3 linked regions of the Homo sapiens genome follow. The protein of the gene in region 2 purifies or fractionates together with the protein of the main gene of each other region. This does not show direct contact. Each region holds a gene or a part of one and is shown on either strand. Other genes may lie near its edges. The genes, in order: SHPK, PSMF1 and RBKS.

Region 1 (3,652 bases), on a different chromosome or scaffold from region 2:
TAGAACACCCCAGCCTGAAAGGGCCCATAGAATGTCAAAGAGGAGATAAAGACAACCCCCAGCTAGATATATTCTAGTGAACTTTTAAGGATTTCAAAGACAGAATTCCAAAAGCTTACAGAGCAAAAGATCAGATCCCATATGAAAGAATAAGGATCAGATTGACATTAGATTTTTTTCAACAGCAGCATTCTGTGTGAAAAGACAATGGAGTAGCATTTTTTTGTTTGTTTTGTTTTTCTGAGATGGAGCCTCACTCTGTTGCCCAGGCTGGAGTGCAGTGGTGCGATCTCAGCTCACTGCAACCTCCGCCTACTGGGTTCAAGCGATTCTCCTGCCTCAGCCTCCGGAGTAGCTGGGATTACAGGCACCCGCTACCACACCTGGCTAATTTTTGTATTTTTTGTAGAGATGGGGTTTCGCCATGTTGTCCAGGCTGGTCTCGAACTCCTCACCTCAGGTGATCCGCCCACCTTGGCCTCCCGAAGTGCTGGGATTATAGGCGTGAGCCACCGTGCCTGACCAGGAGTAGTATTTTGATGACCTATTGCGGCACAACAAACTACCTCCAACCTAGTGACTGAAAGCAACAAGCATTTATCATCTGTCATGATTTTTTGGGTCAGGGGTTGGGCAGGGCTCAGCCCACTGCTGCTTCTGCATGGTGGTGGTGGAGGTTGCTTGTTAGTGTTCAACTGGTGGACAGACTGGTCCAGGGGGTCACGGTGGCTTTACTCAATGCCTGGTACCTTGGTGGGAAGGCTGGAGGCTGGGCTCACCTGGAAACGGTCTGCCGGCTGCTCTTTGCCCGTGGTCTCCTCAGCATGGCGGCCTCGGCGTAGTCGCACTTCTTACCTGAAGGCTGATTCCCCCAGAGAGACTGGTGTAAGAGGCTTGGGCGGGAGCTGCAGTACTTCTTATGACCTAGCCTTGGGAGTCCCAAGATGTGACTGCCTCCACATTCTCCTGGTCAAGCACGTCACCAAGGTGATTCTATATTCAAGGAAAGAGGATTCAGATGCCACCTCTTAATGGGAGGAGTAGTGAAGAATTTGCAACAATCGACCACAAAAAGTGCTTTTAAGCATTGAAGGGAAGGAACTTAGAACCAGACTATTATAACTAATCAAACTGGCATTTAAAGATGGGAACATGAGAAATATTTGGTGGCATCTGGGCCTTCAGACACTGCCTGGAAAGACTGACACTGAAATTGGCCTTGGGAGAAATCACTGAATAAGGGCAGAGAAAAATCCAGAGGATGTCACAAGGCACAAATGAAAAAAAATCTGACGGTCAGATGATTTTAAAGTAAATTTGGATGTCTAAAAATCAATCAGGGCCAGGTGCGGTGGCTCATGCCTGTAATCCTAGCACTTTGGGAGGCTGAGGTGGGTGGATTGCCTGAGCTCAGGAGTTCGAGACCAGCCTGGGCAGCATGATGAAACCCTGTCTCTACTGAAAGTCCAAAAAATTAGCTGGGCGTGGTGGCGTGGGCCTGTAGTCTCAGCTACTCGGGAGGCTGAAGCAGGAGAATCGCTTGAACCTGGGAGATGGAGGTTGCAGTGAGCCGGGATCATGCCACTGCATTCCAACCTGGGGGACACAATGAGACTCTGTCTGAAAAAATTAAAATAAAATAAAATAAAATAAAACGCAATCAGCTAAGAACTAAGGAAAAGAGAAAATTTACTGGTAATCAAGTAGCAGTAAGCCTAGATAATGTCATGATGAGGGTTGGAGGGACAGAGACCAGGGGACTTGAGATTGTGCCAAACATCTTCTGAGATGTGGGGAGATATGATATCAACTTCAAAAAAGAATAAAAACAAACAGAGAAGTGGGGCAAATGGAGGGAGTATGTGACGTGCCCAGGGTCCCACAGTCATTATGTGGTAGAGCCAAGTACTAAAGCCAGTGCTATCAGGACCCATAGGTGTGCCAGGCTTTATCATGGGACGATTCGCACATATTTTGTCACTCACCAGCAGAGTAGTATCAAGGCCGCGCCATGCCTAGTCATTTGCTCTTTTCTTCATTTTTGGTCATCTCTTTTGTTCCAGGCTGTGAATGGACAGAGGGAGGGATTACCCCGGTGTTCGAGCCCCGAGCTGTTAGCCACCTGGTCACGTGGCAGGATGGCCGATGTAGCAGCGAATTCCTGGCCTCTCTGCCCCAGCCGAAGTCTCATCTCAGTGTGGCCACGGGCTTCGGCTGTGCAACCATCTTCTGGCTTTTGAAATATCGGTACGGGCAACTGCACTTTCACTCGGGTGCTGGGTTTCCGGGAGAATGAGAATAGGCCGGGGCTGCGTCAGCATCACCCCGCCTGCTGGGCTGTGCCGCAGTGAGTGTGTCCTGGCAGGACAGGATGCAGCATGGCCTGGACCTCGATTGGGTCCAGAACCACGTCCTTTTGCAGAGGGCTCTCTATTGGTTATCCAGTTCCCACCCACATAGGGAAAGGAGGGAACAGAGAGGGCAAGTGACTTGCCGAGGGTCACGGGGAGAGTTCGCAGTGTGTTCAGGCCTGCGAGGCTGCTGAGGAGGCTGACGTCTGCTTTTCCAGGCTTGACACTTCCTCCTCTCAGGCCCTTCCCCTGGGGCTGACTTAGGCTGGCTTTGCTTGGGGCAGCTGGGAGGTCCTAATCCCAGGGACCCAGCTGGACTTGAGCCATAGTATATGCGGTTGTGGCTGCCACCTGGCCATGGCACAGCTGGTCCCTGCTGCCTGCAGCTAGGTGCGGCACATGCTTCCGAGTTCATGTTATACCGTGTTGGTTGTTTTTGGTATGAAAAACAGCCCAGAGTTCCTGAAGTCCTACGACGCAGCCGGTACCATCCACGACTATGTGGTTGCCATGCTGTGTGGCTTGCCAAGACCTCTGATGTCCGACCAGAATGCTGCCAGCTGGGGCTATTTCAACACGCAGAGCCAAAGCTGGAACGTAGAGACGTGAGTATCACATCCTTGCAGGCTGTTCCTCCTGCTCCAATCTGAAGGGCAACCCCGGAGCCAGTGCTTCAGTGGGTGCTTTCCCATCTGGGAGTGGTGGAGGGTTCCCAGAGGCCAGGATCAGGGTCCAGTGCCCCTGGCCTGTCCCAGACACGGGGCATGGATGGGCCCAGTGTAAGCACAGCCCTGAGCCCTTGGGTAGGGGCCTCAGCCATGCTGTCCTGCTCCTCCACAGCCGCCCAGACCCCAGGTGGGCTCTCCCTTCTCTGTGACCATGAGCCCAGTCTGTAGGTTTCAGAGTACAGCTTTCACTCTTTAATACTTAAACTTAGAGAGCCAGGCGCGGTGGCTCATGCCTGTAATCCCAGCACTTTGGGAGGCTGAGGCGGGTGAATCACCTGAGGTCAGGAGTTCGAGACCAGCCTGGGCAACATGGCGAAACCCCATCTCTACTAAAAATACAAAAATTAGCTGGGCGTGGTGGAGTGCGCCTGTAATCCCAGCTACTCTGGAGGCTGAGGCAGGAGAATCACTTGAACCTGGGAGGCGGAGGTTGCGGTGAGCCGAGATTGCACCACGGCACTCCAGCCTGGGGGACAGAGCGAGACTCTTGTCTCAAAAAAAAAAAAAAAGAAAAAAGAACTAGAGATAGTAGGCTTGAAGGATGCCTTTTAAGTTCTTTTTGAACAATCATTT
Region 2 (3,652 bases):
TATTTGTACATGTGCTACATTTTGTGTATTATGAAATTATAATTTTTGTACATCACTGCAGTCAGTTAGCGTGTATTCGGATCTGTGTTTTTAGTCAACACCTTGGTAATCCTATTGAAGTTAGCCTAACGTCCAAACTTTGAAAAACACTACTTAGAACTTCGCAGTGTTCCTCAAGATGACTGGCTTTATTCTTAGCAGTGGGATGGGGAAGAGATAATTATTAAACCAACACTGCAGATTCTTGACAGGTTCCAGTGCTGTGTCAGAAAGGTAGCTCAATATGAGGGAGAGCGCAGTAGAACAGAAGCCCAGAGACCTGGGCCCTAGACCTCTCTCTCGCTGTAGGATCTTGGGCAAGTCATTTCTCTTGACCTCCACATCTTCATCTGTGAAGTGAGGTGGGTAAGATTAGCTTATCTCGTGAGGTTCTTTATAGTTCTGTGTTTTGAGTTCATGATCTTTCTCCTCTCAACTGTGGTCTTCCCAGCCGGGTCCCAATGATAAGAAGTCAGAACTGCTGCCAGCTGGGTGGAACAACAATAAAGACCTGTATGTCCTCCGGTATGAGTATAAGGATGGGTCCAGAAAGCTCCTTGTGAAAGCCATCACCGTGGAGAGCAGCATGATCCTCAATGTGCTGGTGAGTCTCTGGGACACGTGAGTCTGCTGATGAGATGGGGATAGGAATGGCTGTTTTGAAACCCATTTAACGGTACGAATCCAGAGCTTCAATGTTCATGTAGCCCTTACCTAGTGATCCCACTTCTGGAACTTTATCTTAAGGTGAGAACCCTAAGTATAGAAAACCTTCGTGCACAAAGGTATCCACCACCTGGAATTAAGAAGGAGGGGCTTTCTGTCAACAGGGGAATGGTTAAATAAGGTAAATCTATTCAGTGACAAGATAGAAGGGAAAAACTTAGGTAACCCCAATGGGCTACTTCAGTTCCTTAAATAAATTGAATTCTTTGCTGCCTTGGAGCCCTTGCACTTTACATTTCCTATGCTGGAAGGCTCTTCCCCTCCCCCATCTGCCACTCACACAGCCCTTCACCATTCCTTCATCCTGGACAATTCTCTTTCATTTTTGACTTCCTCAAAAATTTCAGTTCTGACTACCCAGTCCTACTCCCCAAAAAAATCTAAATTATGTCTCTTTACGCCATCATTTTATTTTCCTGCCTGACACTCATTGCAGCTTGTAATTGTGTACTTATTTGTGCTTTGCTTTTATTCTGCCATGGGACTATAAGTGCCACAAGGACAGTGACTTTCCTTTTGTTAACTTTTTTCTTAGTGGTTTGGGTGTGACCATGTAGAAGTATCCTGCTGTATGTATTATACTGCACTTTGCTTTTTTTTCACTCGGTGTTTTGGAGGCAAGACCTTGACATGGAAATACATATAGATATACCTTATTTGTTTTAACTATTATATAGTTTCTCATAGCACCATAATTTCTTTATTCCTTTCCCTTTTGATGAACATTTAGATCTCGTGTCAGATAGGGTTCTTGGTTTCAAACAACAAAAACCTCTTGGGTTAGTTTAAGCAAAAAGGGTTTATTAAAAGAACCAGGATCACCCAGGCGCAGTGGCTCGCACCTGTAATCCCAGCACTTTGGGAGGCTAAGGCAGGTGGATCACTTGAGGTCAGGAGTTTGAGACCAGCCTGGTCAATATGGTGAAACCCTGTCTCTACTAAAAATATTTTTAAACCTTAGCCGGGCGTGGTCGTGGGTGCCTGTAATCCCAGCTACTTGGGAGGCTGAGGCAGGAGCATCCCTTGAACCCAAGAGGCAGAGTTTGCTGTGAGCTGAGATCGTGCCACTGAACTCCAGCCTGGGCAATAGAGCAAGCCTCTGTCTCAAAACAAAACAAAACAAAAAGAACCAGGATAGCTCATTGAAACAGGTTTAAGGCTAGGTTTCCAGAAGCAGTGTCCCAAATCATGCCCCGGAAACCACTGCTGCCACCACCACTGCCCAGTATTAGATACTGGCTGATTCTGTCTGCCCTGGTGCACCCTTCTCTTAAGCTGCTGATGTGACCCCCTGGCCTCTGTGCTACCCTCATTAGCAAGATGTCTGCCCCTTGCTGGGTCTGCATCTCCGTGTTGCTCACCTGCAGATCAAAGTTGATGCATCAGTTCAACACCTCAATTACCATGCCTGAGCCCTTTTGCAAAAGAGCCTGGGAAGTAGGTGTTTTAGTCTCTGCCTTGGAAAGGCAATATTCCTAAATCAGAGAAGTCTCCAAGCCTTAGGAAGGTATTTCATATAAACAGTCCTTATATATGTCTCTGTGGACATATGTGAATATTTCTTTAGGTTGAAGACTTTGTTACTCTCCCTTCACCCTCCCACTCTTAGCCAGAAATATCCCAGTCTCTCACTTTCTATTTTCACCCATCTAGGAATATGGCTCACAGCAAGTGGCAGACTTGACCCTGAACTTGGATGATTATATCGATGCAGAACACCTGGGTGACTTCCACAGGTACTTCTAAATGATGTCTCTTCCCTGGGAAAAAGAAGAGAGAACTAATGGCAAGATATGAGGAATAGGGTGGATGTGTCCAGAAAATTAAGGAAGGTGAATGGAAGAACCTTTTATTTCTGGGCACAACTTCCTAATTTTCTTTTCTGTTTTTTATGTATTTGAAGAGGAGACTTCCATAGGAAATGCCACATGAAACAAGATGGTGCAGTCAAGAGTCCACAAGTGCAGTGGTGGCTGCAGAGTAGAGGTGGAGCCCGGGCAACTCATTCAGTCAGAGCAGACTCCTGGGAGGATGTGTGCCTCATTGGGTCCCCAACCCCAATCTCCAACTTATTTAAAAAAAAATTATTTTCTTTAGGGTCGTTTTAGGTACAAGCAAAATTGAGCAGAAAGTGCAGAGCATTCCCATATTACCTCCTGCTCCCATACACCCACAGTTTACAGCTTCCCTGTGTCAATATCCCATACATAATGATTCATTTGTTACAACTAATGAGTCTACATTGACACATCATTATTAGGGCTCAAGCTTGCTGTTGTGCAGTCTGTGGGTTTTGACAAACAGATGAGAATGTGTGTCTATCATAGTATCACACAGAATAGTTTGACTACCCTAAAAATCTGTGCTTCTCCTATTCTTCACTCCCTTTTCCCTAACTGCTGGCAACCACTGATCTTTTGACTGTCTCCATAGTTTTGCCTTTTCTAGAGTGTCACATAGTTGGTATCATACAGTAGTATGATTCTAGACCTTTTCAGCAGATAGAGCTAGGAAAATTTTTCCTTATAAGTTTAAATTGCCACCTCTGTTTTTAATATAACACTACAGGATTCTTTTTCTCTTATTCCATACTTATATCTCCCTTCTCCTGTGGTGAGAACCCTGATTCCCAGCAGCATCAATGTATTTACTTATTTATTTGATCCTAGAATACACACAAATATTTTCTGAATTGCTACATCAGTGCCTACCAAGAACAAACCTATTAAGTAAAGTTCCAAATGACTTATTTCCAGTTCTTTTTGTCTTTTAACTATGTTCCACAAAAGATGTAGGCAGAGTAGTGTGTTCCAAAGGTACTTAGATTAGTGCTTGTTTTTAAAATCAGTATAATGAAATTATCTGTTTTATATATAGTTAAGCTGAT
Region 3 (3,652 bases), on a different chromosome or scaffold from region 2:
TAAAATAGGATGCCAAGCATGGTGTAGTACATGGTGGTAAATCCCAATTTTTTCCTCTTCAATCCACTTCTCTCTTTAAAGTTAGGATAATATCCTGATCAAGCATCATTTGGTGAAAAAAATCAAAATAAATAGTAGCCACTCTAACATGATGACTTCTTGATATTGTGGCAATAGTTCTGTGATTTTTTTAAAGAATAAAATAGAGAACCACACTGACTATTTCTCAAGATACAAAACTAAAAAGAAAAAAGAAAAAGAACAGTGTGTGTGTGTGTGTGTGTGTGTGTGTGTGTTTATATAAGTGATTTCTCCCAAAGTGTGTAGTGTTCTACATAGAAATAAATGGAAAATAAGTCACTGAAATGATTTTGTGGAGAATTTTAAAATGTTCGTCCTGATTTAACAAATTTTCCTCTTGGCAAAACAACATGCTGTGGTAAATTTTCCCTGACATTTAGTGTATTTTTAATGGACATGAAGCTGTCAGAAAGAATTCTAAGCCAAAACCCATTTGGTTCCATTTTCTTGGAGTGTCACAGTAAAGTCTAATGCTTATGGTTACGCATTCTCTGCACCGTGCCCATCTCAGCAGAGTGATGTGAATACAGGGTGCCACCCTGCTCCTGCTCTTGTCTTTCTTTGTATAGATCAAAGCACATTCTCGTGTAACTTCTCTTTTTTTCCTACTATCCCTTACTGCTCAGAGATCACTGTTCCCTCTGTCCTAGTCTAGTTGCCTGTTACCTACCCTGCTTGTGAAGGAGAGAAAGATACAGCAGCCACAGTTGAGGAGCTAACCTTTCACAGGTGAGAATAGAGTAATCCGGATGGGCAGGCAGCCTACCCTGGGGCTGTCATTGGGTGGGGTCCAGAAAGGCTTCCTCCATCACCTTCCGTGTAGCTCTTCCAGTTGGGAGCTGGAGGACCCAGGACAGCAGGAAGCGGGGTAGGTGACAGTGGGCCACAGACCACTTGGCCTACTTCACACTTTTATTAAGAGCCAGCATGCCTTGGTATTAATTCTGCATGAACTTCCTTATATAATAATAGCAGAAATAGTAATACCATGCATTTATATGTACTTTACATCTTATAAAGTACTTTCGTACACATTTTACCCTCAGAAAAACCTTATGACAAAGATATGGCAGGCATTGTTCTCTCAGATTAAAGGTGAGAAGACTGAGACTGAGAGGTTAAGTCATTTGTTCAAACAGTGTCGCACTTTAAGTTGAAGAAACCATGATTTCAGACTCTAAGACCCAAGTTCTGTCTCCTAGTTTAAACCACACTTTAAAGTGCCACAACCCATTGATTCCAACAAACTGAGCCTTTATGAAGAGTATCTCTAGAAAAGTCAAGTCCATAAATTTTAACACTGTCCAGCACGTGGCCTAAGCTTTATGTGTTTTTGCTGCTCAAGAAACAGAGAAGAGGCTCTACAGTGTTTTCAGCACTGTAACCCCAATAGAACTTACACACACACACACGAACACACATGCACACAAGCACACACACTCATGTGTCCATTACTCCTCCAGTCCGGTGGCTTTCTCTGGCCAAGTCAGCTGGTCCCTATTTGGTAGATACCGGCCAGATGCAGCTTAGATTCTATTCCATGAGGAGGGTGTGTGTGTGTGTGTGTGTGTGTGTGTGTGCGCGCGCGCGTGTGTGTGTGTGTGTGTGTGTGTGTGTAATGCATCATCATTCTCATATGCAAGAAGAGTGGTATCCCAGCACTTTGGGAGGCCGAGGTGGGTGGATCATGAGGTCAAGAGATCGAGACCATCCTGGCTAACACGGTGAAACCCCATCTCTACTCAAAATACAAAAAAATTAGCCGGGCATGGTGGTGGGTGCCTGTAGTCCCAGCTACTCGGGAGGCTGAGGCAGGAGAATGGTGTGAACCCAGGAGGCGGAACTTGCAGTGAGCTGAGATCGCGCCACTCCACTCCAGCCTGGGTGACAGAGCGAGACTCCATCTCAAAAAAAAAAAAAAAAAGAAGAAGAGTGGTATAATGAAAGGAGACCATTGGTTTGGGAATTGTGAAATATGGCTTTAAATTCATAATCAATCAGCAAATGGGGGATCTCAGTCAAGTAAGTCAGTTCCTCACTCTGGACGTCATTTTCTTCTTCTGTGAAACCAGAATTGGGCTGACAGCTCTCACAGTTCTTTCATGTCACTTTGGACTGATCCCAGAGCAGAGTGGGCTTAATGATCTCTTGAGCACTGAGCACCCTACCCACTGCCCCAGGAAGCTGCCTATGTGCTGAACAGCATTATTCCGTCTTCAAGAACGATGATAAAGTCTTCATCGTCATCATCATCTATGGGTTTTCTTATCACAGTTCCATTATCTTTACTGCTTACAGGTAGTGAATTTTGAATTAAGCACATTGCATAACTAGATTATGCTAATATATCAGTTATGAAAATCCAGAGGAAAAGATCCCTACATCTTTGAATATACTGTCTCAAAACTCTCTGTCGCTATCAAAATGAAAGCATTGATTTTTAAAGACATAGTAGCTACAACACCAAAAATCGGTAGCCCTGTATAGCCACCCCCATCCCCACCAGGCCATGAAGCTATGAGGTAGGCCCACTGAAGAGCCAGTGCTGCAGCTGCTTGTGATGAAATTATGCATGTTGGTTCTGGTCTTTATATCCATTTCCAAGCAAATGGAACAGTACATAAACAATTATAAATAATTGAGATTGTAAAATTGCCAAAGTTAAATTATCAGTATGATACAAAGTATCTTTTAATGCCACTTCAGTCCTTTTGCCTTTGGCAAACAAAACTTCTTATCTGGCCATCCAGACTTTCACAATGACATTGTCCAGCACATAGCCCAAGCTTTGAGTGTTTTTGCTGCTCAAGTCACAGAAAAGAGCCTCTAGAGTAATGGACAGCAAAGCCAGTATTTTGAGTGTCCCAACATGCTCACAGTGTCTTCACTCAGGGTGATTTTCTTCCCCGGTTTCTCTGAGCTAATAATTAGGGCCTTCCTAACTGTCCAGCCCCTGCCCTCCGTGACAACACCATAAAGAGTTTCTGCCTCATTTTCCTGCCTTTTAGCCTATACAACTGCTCCTCCAGGCCTCACCAGTTCCTTATTGACATTATTGTGCTATCCATTAACATGCAGTTAAGATAACTAGGAGTTTAGTTCATCTGACACTGTAATTAATAATAATTACTGTTGGGTGCTACCAGTCACCTCTGCAACTCCAAGTTACTCCATGGTACAGTCTGTGTTCTCTAGCTCTGCCTGGTCCCAGGATGACATCATGGCTTCCACCTTGTCTATTACAGATTTGCATTCTTCTTTGATTAACTGCATCTACTAATTTATGTTTCTTTCATCATGGTGGAGTATGCTCATTTGTGGTAGCACAAGCTGAGAAGAATGCTTTCTTTATGGCATTTACACTTTTCCCCTAAATTTAGTTACCAGTCAGACTCTAAGCCTATGTATCCAGTTACTATTGAAGAATGCTGTCCCTCAGTAAAGTACAGGCAAATAAGGTTGATTTTTATACAGTATTTACAGTAAAATTATGGAATTCCTTATTCTAGCAATTGGTACCTAAATTTTAATGTAATTTTTTCCTTAAAATTTGCTTTTATTGTGGAAAATT

The links.
Region 1: the proteins of PSMF1 (region 2) and SHPK purify together in Homo sapiens (affinity purification with mass spectrometry; one large-scale study listed by BioGRID and IntAct). This does not show direct contact.
Region 3: the proteins of PSMF1 (region 2) and RBKS fractionate together in Homo sapiens (co-fractionation; one large-scale study listed by BioGRID). This does not show direct contact.

The regions. Positions count from the first base shown.
Region 1 is NC_000017.11:3,622,643-3,626,294, reverse strand, and holds part of SHPK (sedoheptulokinase), read left to right. Parts: intron 1-2,063; coding exon 2,064-2,247; intron 2,248-2,803; coding exon 2,804-2,956; intron 2,957-3,652. UniProt on the Homo sapiens protein: Acts as a modulator of macrophage activation through control of glucose metabolism.
Region 2 is NC_000020.11:1,125,008-1,128,659, forward strand, and holds part of PSMF1 (proteasome inhibitor PI31 subunit), read left to right. Parts: intron 1-490; coding exon 491-643; intron 644-2,418; coding exon 2,419-2,501; intron 2,502-3,652. UniProt on the Homo sapiens protein: Plays an important role in control of proteasome function. Inhibits the hydrolysis of protein and peptide substrates by the 20S proteasome. Also inhibits the activation of the proteasome by the proteasome regulatory proteins PA700 and PA28.
Region 3 is NC_000002.12:27,838,374-27,842,025, reverse strand, and holds part of RBKS (ribokinase), read left to right. Parts: intron 1-3,652. UniProt on the Homo sapiens protein: Catalyzes the phosphorylation of ribose at O-5 in a reaction requiring ATP and magnesium. The resulting D-ribose-5-phosphate can then be used either for sythesis of nucleotides, histidine, and tryptophan, or as a component of the pentose phosphate pathway.